Homo sapiens: one gene and its partners. The protein of the gene in region 1 interacts with the protein of each later gene in a pairwise test. Each region holds a gene or a part of one and is shown in the gene's direction. Other genes may lie near its edges. The genes, in order: RAD54B, PLCG2, SFRP2, BAAT and TRMO.

Evidence for each region.
Region 2: the proteins of RAD54B (region 1) and PLCG2 interact in a two-hybrid assay, tested with the Homo sapiens proteins (one large-scale study listed by BioGRID).
Region 3: the proteins of RAD54B (region 1) and SFRP2 interact in a two-hybrid assay, tested with the Homo sapiens proteins (one large-scale study listed by BioGRID and IntAct).
Region 4: the proteins of RAD54B (region 1) and BAAT interact in a two-hybrid assay, tested with the Homo sapiens proteins (one large-scale study listed by BioGRID and IntAct).
Region 5: the proteins of RAD54B (region 1) and TRMO interact in a two-hybrid assay, tested with the Homo sapiens proteins (one large-scale study listed by BioGRID and IntAct).

What each region holds. Positions count from the first base shown.
Region 1 is NC_000008.11:94,402,113-94,405,628, reverse strand, and holds part of RAD54B (DNA repair and recombination protein RAD54B), read left to right. Parts: intron 1-1,389; coding exon 1,390-1,552; intron 1,553-3,516. UniProt on the Homo sapiens protein: Involved in DNA repair and mitotic recombination. May play an active role in recombination processes in concert with other members of the RAD52 epistasis group.
Region 2 is NC_000016.10:81,911,787-81,915,302, forward strand, and holds part of PLCG2 (1-phosphatidylinositol 4,5-bisphosphate phosphodiesterase gamma-2), read left to right. Parts: intron 1-810; coding exon 811-930; intron 931-3,516. UniProt on the Homo sapiens protein: The production of the second messenger molecules diacylglycerol (DAG) and inositol 1,4,5-trisphosphate (IP3) is mediated by activated phosphatidylinositol-specific phospholipase C enzymes. It is a crucial enzyme in transmembrane signaling.
Region 3 is NC_000004.12:153,786,278-153,790,287, reverse strand, and holds the start of SFRP2 (secreted frizzled-related protein 2 precursor), read left to right. Parts: upstream 1-1,204; 5' UTR 1,205-1,452; coding exon 1,453-1,954; intron 1,955-4,010. UniProt on the Homo sapiens protein: Soluble frizzled-related proteins (sFRPS) function as modulators of Wnt signaling through direct interaction with Wnts. They have a role in regulating cell growth and differentiation in specific cell types.
Region 4 is NC_000009.12:101,382,193-101,386,159, reverse strand, and holds the start of BAAT (bile acid-CoA:amino acid N-acyltransferase), read left to right. Parts: upstream 1-1,153; 5' UTR 1,154-1,305; intron 1,306-2,286; exon of another isoform or gene 2,287-2,417; intron 2,418-2,595; exon of another isoform or gene 2,596-2,690; intron 2,691-3,967. UniProt on the Homo sapiens protein: Catalyzes the amidation of bile acids (BAs) with the amino acids taurine and glycine. More than 95% of the BAs are N-acyl amidates with glycine and taurine.
Region 5 is NC_000009.12:97,905,491-97,909,006, reverse strand, and holds part of TRMO (tRNA (adenine(37)-N6)-methyltransferase), read left to right. Parts: intron 1-3,516. UniProt on the Homo sapiens protein: S-adenosyl-L-methionine-dependent methyltransferase responsible for the addition of the methyl group in the formation of N6-methyl-N6-threonylcarbamoyladenosine at position 37 (m(6)t(6)A37) of the tRNA anticodon loop of tRNA(Ser)(GCU).

The sequences.
Region 1 (3,516 bases):
CAGTGATATAGAGGAAAGCCAAGGACTACATTTCCCATTTTTACTTCCTAGTCTCCTACCTAACAGGAATTGACCTCAAAGATGAAAGTTCATTTCAGTTACTCAGAAACCTAGGAAGATCCAGAGAAAACTTACCCTCTGGGTATTTGTTAATGGTAAACATGACTAAACTCTTATTCCTGTGACAGTATAGTTCCACACTGATGAATATTTACATAGTCTACTGGAGTCTATTTCTTTTTATCTCCTCTTCTCATCTCCTCATTCTTTTTTCTTTTTTTATCTAATTCAATTTTTATAAACATGATGTAGGCATGCAAATATATCCCCAAAATAATTTTGGTGGGTTTATTATCTAATTTCAGATTTATCAATTGAGACCTGCCTTCTAGTTATATTTGATTTTGCCTTTTTGGGTGATATTTTAGTAAATCTTTTAAATTGTGTTAGCATAGTTTTGAAGAATTACATTGTTATTCTATGATGACTTCATGCTGCTTTAAAGAGGTTCATGAGGCTGGGTGCAGTGGCTCATGCCTTTAATCCCAGCACTTTGGGAGGCTGAGGTGGGCAGATCACTTGAGGTCAGGAGTTCGTGACCAGCCTGGCTAACATGGTGAAACCTTGCCTCTGTTAAAAATACAAAAATTAGCCGGGTGTGGTGGCGCGAACCTGTAATCCCAGGTACTTGGGAGGCTGAGGCACGAGAATTGCTTGAACCTGGGAGGCGGAGGTTGCAGTGAGCTGAGATCACACCACTGCACTCCACCCTGGGCAACAGAGTGATACTCTGTCCCCAGAAAAAAAAGCTTTATGAACTTGACATTCATGAATGTAGTAATTAACTTCAAGCAAATAATGGTGGCTAAGTCAATGGAGAATTTATCATTTTTTCTCAGTTCTAATTAATAGGAGTAATGATCATTGTTAGTGTGTTTAGGACTGAAAAGATAGAAAGCCTGTATGTTAAATTTGGGGAGACTTTTCAGAATGAGAAGCTGTGAACATTGGCAAATGCATCTTGGCAAAATTCCAACCTGTACTTTCAGTTGGAAATAGTTCTCTTTGCTCTGAATACTGAACTATTCAATGTTGTGGCTTATTGAATTCCTTACTAGACAATAGTGAATTTCATTGCTTTCGAAGCACTTTTGGGTATATGAAGTTTGGAAGGCTCTTCGTAATTCTTTGCATGAAATCGTTCATCAGTAAGGCATGAGATTTTCTTTTTAAATTTTGTGCCCTTGGGTAACATTACTGTGACTAAATTTTGGACTTTTTTGGCCACAAATGATGGCAAACATTTCTATCTTAGGGTAATGAAAACAAGATAATGTTGGTTGCTGAAAAAGTGAAATTACAATACTTGTACTTTTATCATTTTTTAAGATTCCCTCGTTATGCCACGACCAGATAAGAATCACCAGTGGGTATTCAATAAGAACTGTTTCCCTCTTGTGGATGTAGTGATTGATCCTTACCTTGTATATCATCTTCGACCACATCAGAAAGAAGGAATCATATTCCTTTATGAATGTGTAATGGGAATGAGGTAGGAAAATAAATCATTTGTTTAATCTAATCTGAATTTTGATTTAACCTGTAACACAATAATGGTTTTCTAAGAAGATCCTAATATAATGAGTCCTGAGGGTACACTATGAATTTCAATTGGTAGGAAAGGTGAATAGTGCTTACTGTGTGCATTTATTCCAAAAGTGGTTCTTGATAGATGCCACGTGCCAAACATACTGCTAGGAGGTGGGCATATGGGAATCAGGACCACGGTCCTTACTTTTAAGTGGCTTTTAAAGTATTTGAGTAAACAGATAAATGCAATTGACCTTAATGTGGTATAATAAAAGCTTACCGACTGCTAGTGTGGTAAAGGGTCATAAGAGCAAGTGAAAGAGGCTTTTAATTCTGGTTATAAGAATTTTTTTTTTTTTTTGGAGACGGAGTCTTACTATGTTGCCCAGACTGGAGTGCAATGGCGTTATCTTGGCTCACTGCAATCTCCATCTCCCAAGTTCAAGTGATTCTTGCATCTCAGCCTCCTGAGTAGCTAGGATTACAGGCGTGCTCCACCATGCCTGGCTAATTTTTGTATTTTTAGTAGAGACGGGGTTTCACCATGTTGGCCAGGCTGGTCTTGAACTCTTGACCTCAAGAGATCCACCCACCTCAGCCTCCCAAAGTGCTAGGATTACAGGCATGAGCCACTGCACCTGGTTATGAGAATTTTGGAAAAAGATTTTCTTCTGTCTCTACATCTGAAAATAGAAAAAAGTTTCTTCTTCCTTTTTGCATTTTCTGATTAAAGAATAGTAGTATCTTAAAGATATTTTAGAGGACACAAAAAAACAGGAGAAAAAAAGAATCAAAGGCCCCTGCTAACATTTCTTCCAGTCTTTTTTGTTTATTTGTTTTGGTTTTGTTTTGCCTTGTTTTTAAATGCCAAGACCCTTGATTTTAAAATTTGTCCTTTAAAGGTAGTTGGAAATGAAATTCTCCCCAACTCTAAGAACTCCTTGAATGATGACAAGTTAAGGGAATACTGTCTTCCAGAAACTGTTAACTAGACTCATATTTCCTCCCAAATCTGCTTTTTCTTTCGAAGGTCTTATCTCAGTTGGTCTGTGAATCATCTTTGATTTCTTCTCTCTCACATTCTGAATCTAGTCAAACCTGAACTTTTAATTATTTTAACCTCCTAAATATTGTTTCCTAATCTTTTCTGTCATTCCACTGCAGCATCTCTAGTAACCGATGTCATAAAAATATCATATTTTATCTAGACTATTGCAATGGCTTCTAACCTGTATATTTGCTTCTGATGCTTCTCAAATAATGTATTCTACTTAAAGCCACCATCTTGAGTTTTCTGAAAAACAGTTCTGAACATGGCATTCCCTTATTTAAAATCATTCAGAGACTCTCAGAACTTAGAACAGTGTTTCCCAAACTGTGATCCCTACTCCACTGGCAGTATATGGGACCATTTTGAGGTGGCAAGTGGACAAGCCTTTAAAAAAATTTGAATAGTAGCATATTTAGTTAATTATTGGAAAAATAGGCTGGGCATGGTGGCTTACACCTGTAATCCCAGCATTTTCGGAGGCCAAGGCAGGCGGATCACTTGAGGTCAGGAGTTCAAGACTAGCCTGGCTAACATGGTGAAATCCCGTCTCTACTAAAAATACAAAAATTAGCTGGGTGTGGTGGCAGGCACCTATAATCCTAGCTACTCAGGAGGCTGAGGCAGGAGAATCACTTGAATCCAGGAGGCGGAGGTTGCAGTGAGCCAAGATAGCGCCACTGCACTCCAGCCTGGATGACAGAGCAAGACTCCGTCTGGAGAGGAAAAAAAAAAAAAAGAAAAATAGCACATTAAACTTTTGGTTTCACAGATAAATTATGCTTAGAAAGAGTTTTCTTTTCAAATTTAAGTTAAAATGATTTGAAGAAAAATCATAAATAACATATAGTATCACAGATATGACAACAAATCGTGAT
Region 2 (3,516 bases), on another chromosome or scaffold:
TTCCTTTTTTTTTTTTTTTTTTTTTTTTTGGGACAGAGTCACATTCTGTTGCCTAGGCTAGAGTGCAGTGGCATGATCTCGGCTCACTGCAACCTTTGCCTCCTGGGTTCAAGTGATTCTCCTGCCTCAGCCTCCTGAGTAGCTGGGACTACAGGCGCCTGCCACCATGCCTGGCTAATTTTTTGTATTTTTAGTAGAGACAGGGTTTCACCGTGTTAGCCAGGATGATCTCGATCTCCTGACCTCATGATCCACCCGCCTCAACCTCCCAAAGTGCTGGGATTACAGGCGTGAGCCACCACGCCTGGCCCAATTTTTGTATTTTTAGTAGAGACAGAGTTTCGCCATGTTGGTCAGGCTGGTCTTGAACTCCTGGCTTCTCGCGATCCACCTGCCTTGGCCTCCCAAAGTGCTGGGATTACAGGCGTGAGCCACTGTGCCCAGGCTATTTTATTTTTTATAGAGATGGGGGTCTCATTGTGTTGGCCAGGCTGGTCTCAAACTCCTGACCCCAAGTGATCCTCCTGCCTCAGCCTCCCAAAGTGCTGGGATTTCAGGTGTGAACCACTGTGCTCGGCCCAATGTATTATTTTGGGCTTGAAACAGACCCCTGGGGTCTTCCACTATTCTTTTCACAAATTCTCTTTGCTGAGGTGCCTTTGTCTGGGGAAGCCCACTGTGTGATTTCCATGGTCGTTTCCAGGGCCAGGTTCCAGGTGTCACTGGTGCCATTATCTTGTCCTCTGCGGGTGGCCCACTGACAGCCTGGAGACCGCTCACCTGGTCGTTTTCCCTGGCCCTGTGCCGCAGGTGGTACTATGACAGCCTGAGCCGCGGAGAGGCAGAGGACATGCTGATGAGGATTCCCCGGGACGGGGCCTTCCTGATCCGGAAGCGAGAGGGGAGCGACTCCTATGCCATCACCTTCAGGTGGGTGCGAGGGTGGGAGGCACATGCTCTACAGAGGGGCTTGGCAAGGACAGATGCGGAGAGACAAGGGGGAACTTCAGGTGGAGGCTCACCTGCAGTGCCCTGCCCCCCCAGCATCAGCGACAACAACAACCACCACAGCAAAAGCCGCTGCGAGAATGTGCGCTCCTGCGTGCCAGGCACAGTCTGCGTTCTCCAGGGCAGGATGTTCTGTAGTAACTCACTTTGGCTTCCAGTAACTCTGTGGGGTTGACATGACCATGATCCGTGTTTCTCAGAGGAGGAAACTGAGGCACAGCAAGATTAAGTAACTTGCTGAAGCATGCAGCCACTAAGTGGTGGGGCTGGGATTCGAGCCCAGACAGCCCAGGCAGCCCAGGCCTGTGATGATATAGATCTGGTTTCCTCCCAACTGCAGCTGCTGCCCAACCACCTCTAGGCCTGTGGTTCTCTAATGTTACCCCAAAACGCCAGATTCTCCCACTTCCACTAATGACAAGGAGCCGAGGAGTGACTCAGACTCCGTGTAGCCTACTGTCCCTCCATCTCCCCAGCCCCAGGGTTTCCCTGCATGTTCTTACGGTGGTAACAGTCTGCTATATGTTGAGTTCCTAACCGTGTTCTAGACACTGGACTGCCTTCAAGGCCTCATCTGATTGAATCCTTTGCTACAGCCTGTGAGAGGTAGGTCTAGTTATTGCAAGGGAGGAAACAGGACCAGAGAGGTTAAGTGACCTGCCTGGAGTCACACAGCCTCATAGTCAACTGAGTTTGAGGTTCAGATGCAGGCCTGTCCGTCTCCAAAGCCTAAGCTCTTCACTCCAGAGTCTCTAGCCAGAGGCCTGGGGGCCAAATCTCCAGCCAGAGGCCTGTGGGCGTCTTTTGTACACTGATGTGAAAAACTGAGAAATTTCACTGAAAAACTCAGATTGCTTCTTGTGAAAAATGGGAGGCAGTGGATGCTCTGGGCCTGTGTTTCCACATGGGCGCGGTGGTGCTGGCTGCATGGCAGCTACTGTGGGGTGTGTGGTTTGCCCCTGTCCACTCCTCTCCCCATTCCCTCTGCCCTGATCCCATCCCCTGGTGACCCTGCCAGGCTGCCCCCTGGGCGTTTGGATTTCCCTTCCTCCTTGCCTGCACCACTATGCCTGAGCCACCTCCCTGGGGACCGTGGTGACGGTCATTATCACTATAGTTTACTGAGGACCTACTGTGTACTGGCTCCAGCCAGAGAGCAGCCTCCCACCAGCATGGCTTTTCTGTACTCTCTGTTCCCAAGAGGGTGACCTGGGCTTCTCAGCATTGGTGCCTCTGCCCTTTGCTCTTTCCCCTAAGCCTCTTAGTGGTACCTCCTCAGCCTGGATGGGGAGGAGGTGTGTTCAGTCCGCTGCACACGGATTGAAAACCTGCTGTGTGCCAGGCCCCAGGTGGGGTGTTGGCACTCCCACTGTGCTGTCATCCTGTGCAAATGATGGCAACTAAACCCAACTGGCTGAAACTGAGGTGCCCAAGCGGTGAGACAGCTCTGACACAACCGGATCGGGGCCTCACCTGATGATGGTCAGGATGCCACCTGTATGTGCATGCTGGCGTTACTCTCCATCAGCTTCTGTCTCAGGTGGCTGTACCTTGGGCTGCCAGGACAGTGTCCGGCAGAAAGGATGGCCCCCTCCCTGAGCCAGGTGGCATGATTCTGACAGGCCATCTGGGGATGGGGTTGGGGTCACTTCAATGGGACCGCGTGAATGAAGAGGTTGGGTGGGTCCTCAGGTTGATTGCCTGACTTACATACACGCCCCATTCAGTTTGTGAGCTTGTCTTCCCCATGAGATTGGAGGTGTCTTGAGAATGGAAGTTTTTATTTTTTAGAAGTTAATAGATGTTTGGTGAGCACCTACTGTGTGCCGGGCCCTGTGCTGGGCTCCAGAGATGCAGGAGTGATAAAAACAGCCCAGTCCTTGCTCTCTCAGGCTAATGGTCTGGCAGGGATGAGAGACATCGCCTTACTCCAAGTGTTTCTTGCTTTTGACCTGTTCCTGCTTATGTAACATTGGCTGGGATGTAGTTGGTGGTTGGTGAATGCTGGCTCAGTGAATCAATCAGCAAGGATGGCCGCTCCCCACCTCACCCCATGGCCCACTGTCAGGGAAGCTCAGTCCACACAGTGTTTCTCAAAGAGTTGGGGTGTGAGGACTGATCCTGTTGTATTTGGATGTTGAACTTCCCTGGTCTCTACCCACTGCATGTCTGTCTGGGACCCTAAGTCATTGTAACAATCAAAAATAACATCCCTGCCCCAGGACACACACTTTTTCAAACCCTCTCTGGTCAGGGTATGGGGTGAAGCGTCACTGTCCTTCACTGAGAAGCACTGAGGAGGTTTGAGCACATAAGGAAATCAGTGTAGTATTTTGTGATGAGTGCTACAAAGGGATTGGTCAGGCAGGGTGGTGGAGGGTGAGTAGCTCTCCAGGGAAACGGATGGGGAATTTGGACCAGGCAGTAGGGGAACACAGGTCTGCAGCAACTTCTCCTTGCCCTCTACATATTTGTAAAGTGCCTCTCCTGTGCCAGGCACTGTTCTGG
Region 3 (4,010 bases), on another chromosome or scaffold:
TAGGGAGACTAGGGACAATTAGGCAAAAGGAGCCCACCCCCCAACCCAGAACTTACTGTTTGCAGTCAGAGACACTAGATCCCAGGCTCCACGAGAGCAGAGGCCGGCCTGTTTGTTCATTTCTGCACATCCAGCGCCCAGCATGGTGCCCCCTGGTACGTAGGGGATGAATGAGCTAATTCTAGCCCTCGTGGATCTCTAGGCAGGACTCCTTCCTCTACCTCGCTCCCTCCCAGCCTGCCCATCTTTTGTGCCCGTCTTTTGTGCCGGCCACCAGTCTTTACAAACAGTGCCCTGGGGGCCCATACTCCAGCTTTCCAGAGCGCACAGCTGCAAGGGCGGCTGTGTGTTAGAGCCCGTGATGCCTTCGAGTATTGAGTCATGCCATTCATTTAAGAAGGAAAAATCTCTCCAAAACGGGGAAATGGTGGGCAGTCCTGTGTGACTGGTGAGACTCTTGTAGGGGCGTTTCTACAACGACGAAACCCTTCCTAGGCACTCACTCCAACAGAATAACAAGCCCATTTTATTAGTATTTCGTTTTCCATGTAAAGTTCTGCTCATACGAATATATTTATAATTCTGATTTTTTTACGGCATTGGGGAGCACACCGACAGGCTGCTGAACGGTGGCTGGAGATTCGAGGGAAAACGAAGTTCGCCGAGGCGGCCTCGGGCGGGCAGGTCCCGGGCTCCATCACAGGGCACACGCGGCTACCAGGGACGCAGCCCCCCAACACACACACACACACACACACACACACACACACACACACACACACCCTCTCCCACTCATGCCTGGCAACCCAGCAGAAACTTCGGACTGGGGCAAAACAAGCCCGGGCCCCGGCGGCACGCGGGGCTAGGCGCGTTCCCGCCAGTACCTGGTCGCGAGGCCGCTCGCGGGGTGCCCTGCGTGCCCCCCACTCCCGCAGCCCGCGCCCTGCTCGCTCACTGTGGGGGCGCAGCGGCCAGGCTTCTCTGTTTGTTGTTTAAAGAAATCCTAGGGCGGGCGAGCGGCGGCATCTAGGGGAGGGGGCGCAGCCAGAATTCCCTTCCAGCAAGCGCGTGAGGGGCATTCTCAACGCAAAACCAGACCCAGAAAGTAGTGACCAGCCCTCCTCGGATTACCCTTCATTGGCTCCTCCCTTGCTCCCCCCACCCTCCAGATTTGCATAAAAAAGGCCAAGAAAACTCTGGCTGTGCCCCAGCAACGGCTCATTCTGCTCCCCCGGGTCGGAGCCCCCCGGAGCTGCGCGCGGGCTTGCAGCGCCTCGCCCGCGCTGTCCTCCCGGTGTCCCGCTTCTCCGCGCCCCAGCCGCCGGCTGCCAGCTTTTCGGGGCCCCGAGTCGCACCCAGCGAAGAGAGCGGGCCCGGGACAAGCTCGAACTCCGGCCGCCTCGCCCTTCCCCGGCTCCGCTCCCTCTGCCCCCTCGGGGTCGCGCGCCCACGATGCTGCAGGGCCCTGGCTCGCTGCTGCTGCTCTTCCTCGCCTCGCACTGCTGCCTGGGCTCGGCGCGCGGGCTCTTCCTCTTTGGCCAGCCCGACTTCTCCTACAAGCGCAGCAATTGCAAGCCCATCCCTGCCAACCTGCAGCTGTGCCACGGCATCGAATACCAGAACATGCGGCTGCCCAACCTGCTGGGCCACGAGACCATGAAGGAGGTGCTGGAGCAGGCCGGCGCTTGGATCCCGCTGGTCATGAAGCAGTGCCACCCGGACACCAAGAAGTTCCTGTGCTCGCTCTTCGCCCCCGTCTGCCTCGATGACCTAGACGAGACCATCCAGCCATGCCACTCGCTCTGCGTGCAGGTGAAGGACCGCTGCGCCCCGGTCATGTCCGCCTTCGGCTTCCCCTGGCCCGACATGCTTGAGTGCGACCGTTTCCCCCAGGACAACGACCTTTGCATCCCCCTCGCTAGCAGCGACCACCTCCTGCCAGCCACCGAGGAAGGTAAGCCTTCCCTCTTGCTTCCCCACTCCCTGCTGGGCTGAGACGCTCCCAGGAGATCCCGCCCCTGCCACGCATCCCAGTGCATCCCTGCTTGGGGTGCCAGTAGCGGGAAGGGCAGAAGTTCTGCCTGACCTGGTCTGTCATCACAACAAGCCTGTATCAAATTTGAGGCACCCCTCCCACGCCGCCCAAGTCTCGCGCATTCTCCTCCCGAGTTGTACCAGCTATACTTAAGGGCAGTTTAAAAATAAAACAAACAAACAAAAACAACAAAACTAAAAAAACGAAGAACTGAACGGCGGTTTAAAAAAAAATAGATACACGATTATTGTTAAAGATGCTAGCACTGGAGCTGCGCAGAGCGTTGGAAGTGGTGTTTGGTGGAGGAGTTTGTGGTGAGCATTCTGGCCAGAGGCCCCTCGCTCAGCCTCATTCTGCACCTTCCTACCACTGGGCAGGATTCTAGTCACAGGAACATTTCCTGTACAGAAAGGAAAACCAGGATGCACAAGTAGATAACCTTTTAAGGGTCTTTTTGTCCTTTGTCAATTTAGATTTTGGAAATAAAACCGGGACTGGCACGGAGTGTGTGGAAAATTGAACATTGGTTGTAACTGCTCAGATACTTGAGGAAGAGGGCATAAAGGGAATCTCTGGAAATCACTTTTCTATTGCTATCAGTTTTTAACTTAGGAGTGGTTTTGATTAGCTGGAGAAAATCATGCAAAAGAGATTCCCAAGTTTTTAGAAAACGGAGGGAGAGTTCCTGTGCAAAAACCATCAAAGCAATGAAAACCTCATGGGCTCTCAATATTTTTTCTGAAAGGAAAACATATACAATGCCTCTGAGCTGATTTGGGTCCCCTGGGTTGGAAAAGGGAGCTTCCTAATCCCTTTCAGGGCTTCAGCAGCCTCTCCCTTTCAATCTCTAGTAGTTTTCCTACAGACATCATTAGTTAAAGCAAATGCAAAGTTCTTTAGCAATCTTTCCTGGCAGGGACCATGAGTTTGCAATCATCTTATTGGTTAGATTTCTAATTTATTGCAAATGTTTGGCATTTTTCAAACATTTGTCCAACATGTACCATAGACCAACCAATACAGGTTAGTAATATTTTATATACATCCTGAGAGCTCCTAATTGGAAATGTTTGATTTTGTTTGGGTGAGGGGACTTAAGGGCAGTTTTATGTATGTTGCTTTTATTTCTTCCCACTATCAGCAGCAACATTACGCATCTTACATTTCTCCAAAAAGCCACTTTTCTCCTTCAAAATAAAAGTTTATGTTCTTCAAAATTCCAGCTTTGTGATTTTTCTAATTTGATAAATAACGCTTCTATTAAGTCACATAGTTTTCTATGAACATTAAATTTCACATTAGTGAAAATCTCATTTCACCTAAATTTTAAAGACATAATTAACACATTTATAAATGAGAGAAGGGCAATATAATTGTTCTTTTTTTTTTTTTTTTACTTCTCCCAAGAAATCAAACTCTTAGAAGAGCTTTTAGCAGGTCTTCTGATAATTGTGCTAGTATACAATCCCTAAGTTTGATCAGACCACTAAACCATTTTTGCTTCGTCTTTGATTAGCTTCAGAAACAGGTTTATTTATTTGTTTGTTTTGAGAGTTTGAAACAGGCACAGAAGGGCAAGAAGAACCTGTACCAGGGAGCTTGCAGATAACAATGAAATGAATGCTGCCTAACTCAAGCACAATCTTGGCAGAGGCACAAGGTGACACAGAACCACTTAGAGCAGGCTGTTGTAATTAGTGAGATGTGTTTTCAAGGTGGAAACAGCCCACATGTGGAACGCTAGCCAGTCACCCCTCCCAGTCCAGACTTGGCCCCCCTGAGATACAGAGCTCTGCCGAGTAGAGCCAACTACACTGGTGTCCTGTGGCTGAGAAAGACAATCTTTTGTCTATATTTTCTAGTTACCAGTTTTCCCAAATTCCTCAAGTATCTTTGGTTCTTTGGGTGCTTTCTCCTTCAAAAGGCCTTGGGAATAACTTTTTCAGACTGAATTTCCCAGAGGTTGGGAGGATGA
Region 4 (3,967 bases), on another chromosome or scaffold:
TCCTTTTAATTCTGTCAATTTTTGCCACATAAATCTTGAAATCCATTATTCGGATTTATGGTTTTTATGATCTTGTCATATAGATATATGATATATATATATTTTATAATCTTAGTCATTACTACTTTAGGTTTCTTATGCTTATTGTTGCATAGTATGTGTTGCGGGAAGTCAGGGACCCCAAATGGAGGGACTGGCTGGAGCCGCGGCAGAGGAACATGAATTGTGAAGATTTCATTTTAATATGGACATGTATCAGTTCCCAAAACTAATACTTTTATAATTTCTTACACCTGTCTTTACTGCAGTCTCTGAACATAAACTGTGAAGATTTCATGGACATTTATCACTTCCCAAATAATACTCTTATAATTTCTTACGCCTGTCTTATTTTAATCTCTTAATCCTCATATCTTGGTAAGCTGAGGATGTACGTCACGTCAGGACCACTGTAATTGTATCTGACTGTACAAATTGATTGCAAAACGTGTGTTTGAACAATATGAAATCAGTGCACTTTGAAAAAGAAAGAATAACCGTGATTTTAGGGAACAAGGGAAGACAACCACAAGGTCTGACTGCCTGTGGGGTCAGGCAGAATAGAGCCATATTTTTCTTCTTGCAGAGAGCTTATAAACAGACGTGTAAGTAGGAGAGATATCGCTAAATTCTTCTTGTAGCAAGGAATATTAAATATTAAGACCCTAGGAAAAGAATTGCATTCCCAGGGGGAGGTCTATAAACGGCCACTCTGGGAGTGTCTGTCTTACGCAGTTGAGATAAGGACTGAAATACACCCTGGTCTCCTGCGGTACCCTCAGGCTTATTAGGATGGGGAAAAAATCCTGCTGTGGTAAATCTGAGGTCAGACCGGTTTTCTGCTCTTGAACCCTGTTTTCTGTTGTTTAAGATGTTTATCAAGACAATACATGCACAGTGGAACATAGACCCTCATCAGTAATTCTAAGTTTGCCCTTTGCCTTGTGATCTTTGCATTGCCCTTTGCCTTGTGATCTTTATTGGCCTCAGAAGCATGTGATCTTGTTCTCCCTTTTGCCCTTTGAAGCATGTGATCTTTGTGACCTACTCCCTGTTCATACACCCCCTCCCCTTTTGAAATCCTTAATAAAAACTTGCTGGTTTTGTGGCTCGGGGCCTCACGGTCCTGCTGATATGTGACATCACCCCCGGAGGCCCAGCTGTAAATTCCTCTCTTTGTACTCTTTCTCTTTATTTCTCAGACCAGCCGACACTTAGGGAAAATAGAACCTACGCTGAAATTTTGGGGGCAGGTTCTCTTGCTAGGTATGTATTTTTTTCATTTACTTACTTCCATTCTTTTAATGTAATTTTTCACCACAATCCAGACTCTCAGTAATCCTTTCCTTGCTTTTGTTTAAAGATTTACTCCAAAAATGTGGCCTATAGTTTTAGTTCAGCAAATACAAATTTGAAAGATTTATTTATGTGTATTTATGACTAGTTTCTAACGACATTATGTTTATAAGATTCATCCAGGTTATTGCATGTAGTTGTAATTCATTTATTTTTATTCTCTAGAAGAAGAATTGCTGGGTCAAAAGTTATTCATATTGTCACATTTATTAGACAATGTCCAATTGCTTTCCAAAGTGGTGGTACCAATTTATATTCCCTTAGTAGGGCTTGAGTCTGAGTGATTCACTTCCTAACCAACTCTTATTTTTGGAATTTTTAATTGTTGCCAACCTTTTAGGTATGAAATACACACCATGATTTTAATTTGCATTTCTTTGATAATGAGATTAAGCCTTTTCCCATAAGCTTATGATTGTGTCCTATTGTCTGTTAAGTACCTGTTTAAGACTTTTTCTCATATTCACCTGAGATTTTTAGACATTACTTTTTTAGGAATATTTTATGTATCCCAGTTAATAATTCTTAATCAGTTGTATCTGTAGCATAAGTCTTGCAAGGTAGTAGCTTAATAGTTTTCAAGTTTTTTATGGAGTATTTGGCTGATCAGACTTCCTTAAAATTAAGTTGAATTTAAGTTTCCTTTAAGTTTGCACTTTTTAAATGCTCTATCACCTCAAAAAAGATCCAGTACTTTTATGGAGATAGTCCTTTTATTGTCATGTAAAATCCTACTAACACTCCGTTCTGTAGCTATTTCAAGAAACCATGTGAATTAGTTGAGGAGGATTAGTAGGAGATTTGGTCCTCCCCAAATTCTGAAAGTGGGGCTTGAGTATTTTATTACTCATTACTGTGATCACATTTGTAGTTTTCATCTTTTGTTGTCTCAGGAAAGAAACCATTTGCAAATGCAGAGCCCTCCAGAAGTTACCTTGAGTATTTTATTGCAGAAGAAAAATATGCCCTAATGGTGCCAATAGGGGTCAAACAACTTCTATAAAGAAAATTATTAAAATAATGTGAGTAAAATGTAGTGGCAATCCCTAAGAGGGACGGATTTAGAGAGAACAGAAAATGAAGAGGGAAAATAGTGATACATTTATTGGGTTCAATAACTGTTAAAAATTAATAGGAAACTAGAGCAAGAGGTATGTGGTGACCTAGCACTTAAGTTAGCTCTGTTATACTTCCAAAGGCATATTTGAGGTTTTGGCCTTCTGGGCAAGTTTTGGTAGGGTGTCTGTCATTTTCCCTCTACTGCTGGAAAAGAAGGCTCAAGAGGAAGAATCCAGGTACTTTGTATTTTAATCAGGACTATTTATTTGGGCCGATTGGAAATAAGTTAAAATCTCTGCTCTTGAATTAAATCAGAGTTTATTTACCTCAGTGTTTGGAATTTTAGCAGTTCATGAGGACAAATAGTCTTTTTGTTCATTTCATAATCTCAGCTGTAGAGTTGCCCAGAGTGCTCAGATAAGTGTGTCTTTTCATTTTGATTTGCTTAGAAAGGATGTCAGTAGGGACTTGCTATTATGATGATATTGAGCTGAAATTTATATTTCTGAGGAAAATGAAAGGCTATCAGAAGTCATTTGTTAAAATTTCTTTATTCTGTCTTCCCCATCCCCATCAATATTTCTCCCTCTTTTAAAAGACTATTGCCTAGAATTTTATAGAATAAGCCCTCCTATTCTGGGAAACTGTACTGTGGTCCTATTTATATTTTGTTTGAAGGGTAATTTTCTTTTAATGTAAGACTAATGCCATGTTAGAATTAGATTCTGTGAAAATATTTCTTGAAGCTTTGAATATATGTTATACCTATTTATGCAATTCAGGAATGCTTTCTGGTAGTGAAATGTAATGTTAAAAAATACCAAAAAAAGCAAGTATAAGTTTGAGCTAAAGTTAATGACTTTCTAATTGACTTATTTCTGTTTGGGCACGCTGGTTGATGCATGTGATATTTGTATAGAAATAAATTGAATGGATAATATTGTTAGGGGTGGTGAATATCTGAGTTACTGGTGGCAAATCTGTATGGGTCTGCAGCAATCTCATTTCTTGCCTCCTCGAAAGAAAGAATTCAACTGAGGGGCATAAGGCAGTAAAAGAGACCAAGGCAAGTTTCAGAGCAGGAGCAGAAGTTTATTAAAAAGCTTTAGAACAGGAAAGAAAGGAAAACACACTTGGGAGAGACCCAAGCAGGCATCTTGGAGGTCAAGTGCCTCGTTCATCCTTGAACCTAGGATTTTATATGCTGGCCTACTTCTGGCATCTTGCACCCCTTTCCCTTCATCCTTCCCTTAAGGGTTATGGGGAGCCACCCACATGCATGGTGCCCTGCTTGTGCTTGGGATGTGGGCATGCACAGTGTGTTTACTGGAGTTTTATGCATGCTTATCTGAGGCTTTCTTTCAAATTCTGGTGGAATGCCCCTGGAAGGTCATACTCTGCCATTTTGACTCTTAATGTGCATGTTTGAGCTCATTCGCCCAGTTCCTGAAAGCTGCCAATTATCAATTTCAGGTGTTTTTATCAGTTGAGAAACTGCCTCTCCCTGGTGCTG
Region 5 (3,516 bases), on another chromosome or scaffold:
CTCCAGCCTGGGTGACAGAGTGAGACTCCATCAAAAAGAAGAAGCTGGTTGCCAAGGAGATGTCAGATTGCAAAAAGCTGTTCTTTGTGTTACAACTCAGTAAGGAGCCAGCATAACCATATAAAGAGGGAAGTTCATTTATTCATTCTACAGTTGTTTACTGAGCTTCTGCTAGGTACCAGACATTGGTCTAGGTTCTTGGAATACATCAGTGAACAAAACAGATATAAAAAACCCCTGCTGTCATGGAGCTTGCATTCTAATGGGGAGGAGAGAGACAAATTAAAAGTATAATAAGCAATCAAGTTATTAGACCAAACATATTCAACATTATATAATATTAGAAGGTGATAAGAGTTACTGAAAAATTTAAGAATACAGCAGGCTTGGAGTGTTGTTACTATTTTATTTTATTTTTGAGACAGGGTCTCACTCTGTCACCCAGACTGGAGTGCAGTGGCAAGAACATGGCTTACTGCAGCCTCAGCCTTCCGGGCTCAAGCAGTCCTCCCACCTCAGCCTTCTGTGTAGCTGGGACTACAGGTGTGCACCACAACACCTGGCTAATATTTTGATTTTTTTTTTTTTTTTTTTTGAGACGGAGTCTCGCTCTGTCGCCCAGGCTGGAGTGCAATGGCTCGATCTCGGCTCACTGCAAGCTCCGCCTCCCGGGTTCACACCATTCACCTGCCTCCGCCTCCCGAGTAGCTGGGACTACAGGCGCCCGCCACCACACCCAGCTAATTTTTTGTATTTTTAGTAGAGACTGAGTTTCACCGTGTTAGGCAGGATGGTCTCGATCTCCTGACCTTGTGATTCCCCCGCCTTGGCCTCCCAAAGTGTCCAGATTACAGGTGTGAGCCACCGTGCCCAACCTATTTTGAATTTTTAAAGAGACGGGGTCTCATTTTGTTGCCCAGACTTGTCTTGAACTCTTGGGGGTCAGGGGATCCTCTGTCTCAGCCTCCCAAAGTGCAGGGATTACAGGTGTGAGCCACTGCACCTAGCCTGTTGCAATTTTAAATAGGTGGCCCCAGTGGGCCTCACTGAGAAAGACACATATGAGCAAAGGTCAAAGAGGTGAAGACATGAGCCAGCCTGTCCAGAGAAAGGACATGCTGGCCTGAGGGACAGCCAGTGCACAGCCGCAAAGTGGAGGGTGCATGGCACGTTTGAGGTCATGTGGTCAGAGTGGACTGAGGAGGGCTGAGCGGAAGGATATGAGGTCAAAGAGGCACTAGAAAAGGGACGAGGTCACCTAAGGGTTTTATAGGCCATTGTAAGGACTTGAGTTTTGATCTTGGGAGAAGTAAAAGGCAGAGGAACTTGATGTCCGTATCCCCAGAGAGCAGGGGACCATCTCTGGGGTCAGATCACTACCTGTGTGATTTCTGGGATGTCACACCTCAGTGACATGCAAAGGCAAGCTGGAGTTCCTTATTGAGACAATGAAGACTTTCATTCTATATCCAGAAAATAAAGGCTTACACAACCAAAGATACTAGATTTTCCCCTGCTTTACTAGCAGGGAGAGAATGAAGAGGCTAGGGGGGTATTTGGCTTTGATAATCCAACCTGAAGGAGGTTTTTCTGATGGGAAAAAGAAGTCTAAAAGTTGGGACTGGAGATACATGCCAACTGACTCTGAGATTTCCCCATTTCTTCCTGTCAGAGCCACAGCCAGCCCACACTGTTGCCTTTTGCAAAGGAAAAGCCACCCCTTCCTCTGGGTGGAGGCAGCCACCTGCCAGGGCCCAGGAACTGGTTTTAGCCCCAACATGCAAACTTCAGCCAAGTGCCGTATGCAGGGCACCCCCTGCACTTCTGGACACGGCAGTCTCGTGGTCATGAGTGGTGATGCCACTTGAGGGTTGTGCTTCTCTTTGGCTCCTAAGGCTTTACTTTTAAACAAAGCTTTTGATTTTAAAATTGATCTTTTTATTTTTAAAAGTTTTGTTGATAGAAATCATTACATCACTGTATACAGTTGATGGGAGGAGGCTGGTCAGTTGTAAAAGGATTTTATGGTGGAACAAAACAGTCCTGCCTTCTAGACACTTTATGCTTACCACTTGTCCTGTGGTTATTGTCTAATGCAAACTACTATGGAAAGTTTTGTTTTTCTTTCTTTTCTTTTTTCTTTCTTTCTTTTTTTTTTTTTTTTTGAGACGGAGTCTTACTCTGTCACCCAGGCTGGAGTGTAGTGACGCGATCTCGGCTCACCGCAACCGCCTCCTCCCGGGTTCAAGCGATTCTCCTCCCTCAGCCTCCTGAGTAGCTGGGATTACAGGCGTGAGCCACCACACCCAGCCTGGAAAGTTTTGTTTTTTAAACTGCAGTGCAGTATGTGTCAGATGTTTGAAATATGCCTTACTGATTAAAAAAATGATTAAAATGAGAAATTACGCAGTGTAACTACAAAACAGGAACTGATTGATAGCAAACAGCAAAATTCAGAGCTGTTGCAGAAATAAGAAGTGACTTCAGGAAGTTCTGAGTCTAGAAGAGGTTAAAGGTGTTGAAATGGGAGGAAGTTTGGTGCTGGAGTAAAGGTCTGGGCAGAGTGCTGTGGGCACTCTGAGAGGAGAATCCTGACTTGTGTCTGGGAGGGAGTGTGGAAGGAAACAGTGCTTGAGCTGAGCCTGGCAGGATGAGTAGGCAGGGAATTGGGGGAAGGCACCCATGCCAGATAAACGGCCAAGCAGAGGCCTGGAGCCTCTCCCAGAAACGCCGTCACAGGGGAGTGTGATGAGCTCTCCTCATTTTTGAGTGGCCTTCAGAGCCATTTTCTATGAGCCATGCAGTAAAGGAACCTTATTGCCATATAATTGATTTTTTTTTTTTTTTTTGAGATACAGTCTCTTTCTGTCACCCAGGCTGGAGTGCAGTGGTGCAATCTTGGCTCACTGCAACCTCCACCTCCCGGGTTCAAGTGATCCTCCTGCCTCCTGAGTAGCTAGAATTACAGGCGTGCGCCACCATACCTGGCTAATTTTTTTGTGTGTGTGTATTTTTAGTAGAGATGGCGTTTCACCATGTTGGTCAGGCTGGTCTCAAATTTCTGACCTTGTGAGCCTCCTGCCTTGGCCTCCCAAAGTGCTGGGATTACAGGTGTGAGCCACCGTGCCCAGCCCATATAATTGATTTTTGACTAAAAATTGTACTTCATGGCTTTATTTACCCAACCTGCTTATTAGATATGGCCCACAGTGATTTTTGGCTGCTTGTAGAAATCAAATCCACTCCAAGAGGGATAAAGATCCACTGCCACCACAGATGATATTTTGAGCAGGGACAGTGTTTTTAAGATCTGTACCTTCCTGGAAGGGGCATTTGGATGTATGTGATGTTGTAGTTATGAAAAACTAGGTCACAGTTACTTTCTAAATTTATGTTTTATACATACCATATTAAAAATAAAATACATTAAAAATCCTACAAACATAGGAAGTTTTGCTGTTTCTTAGGGACACAGATGTGAGAGAGTCCCAAAGCAAAGGGATGTTACTGGTAACT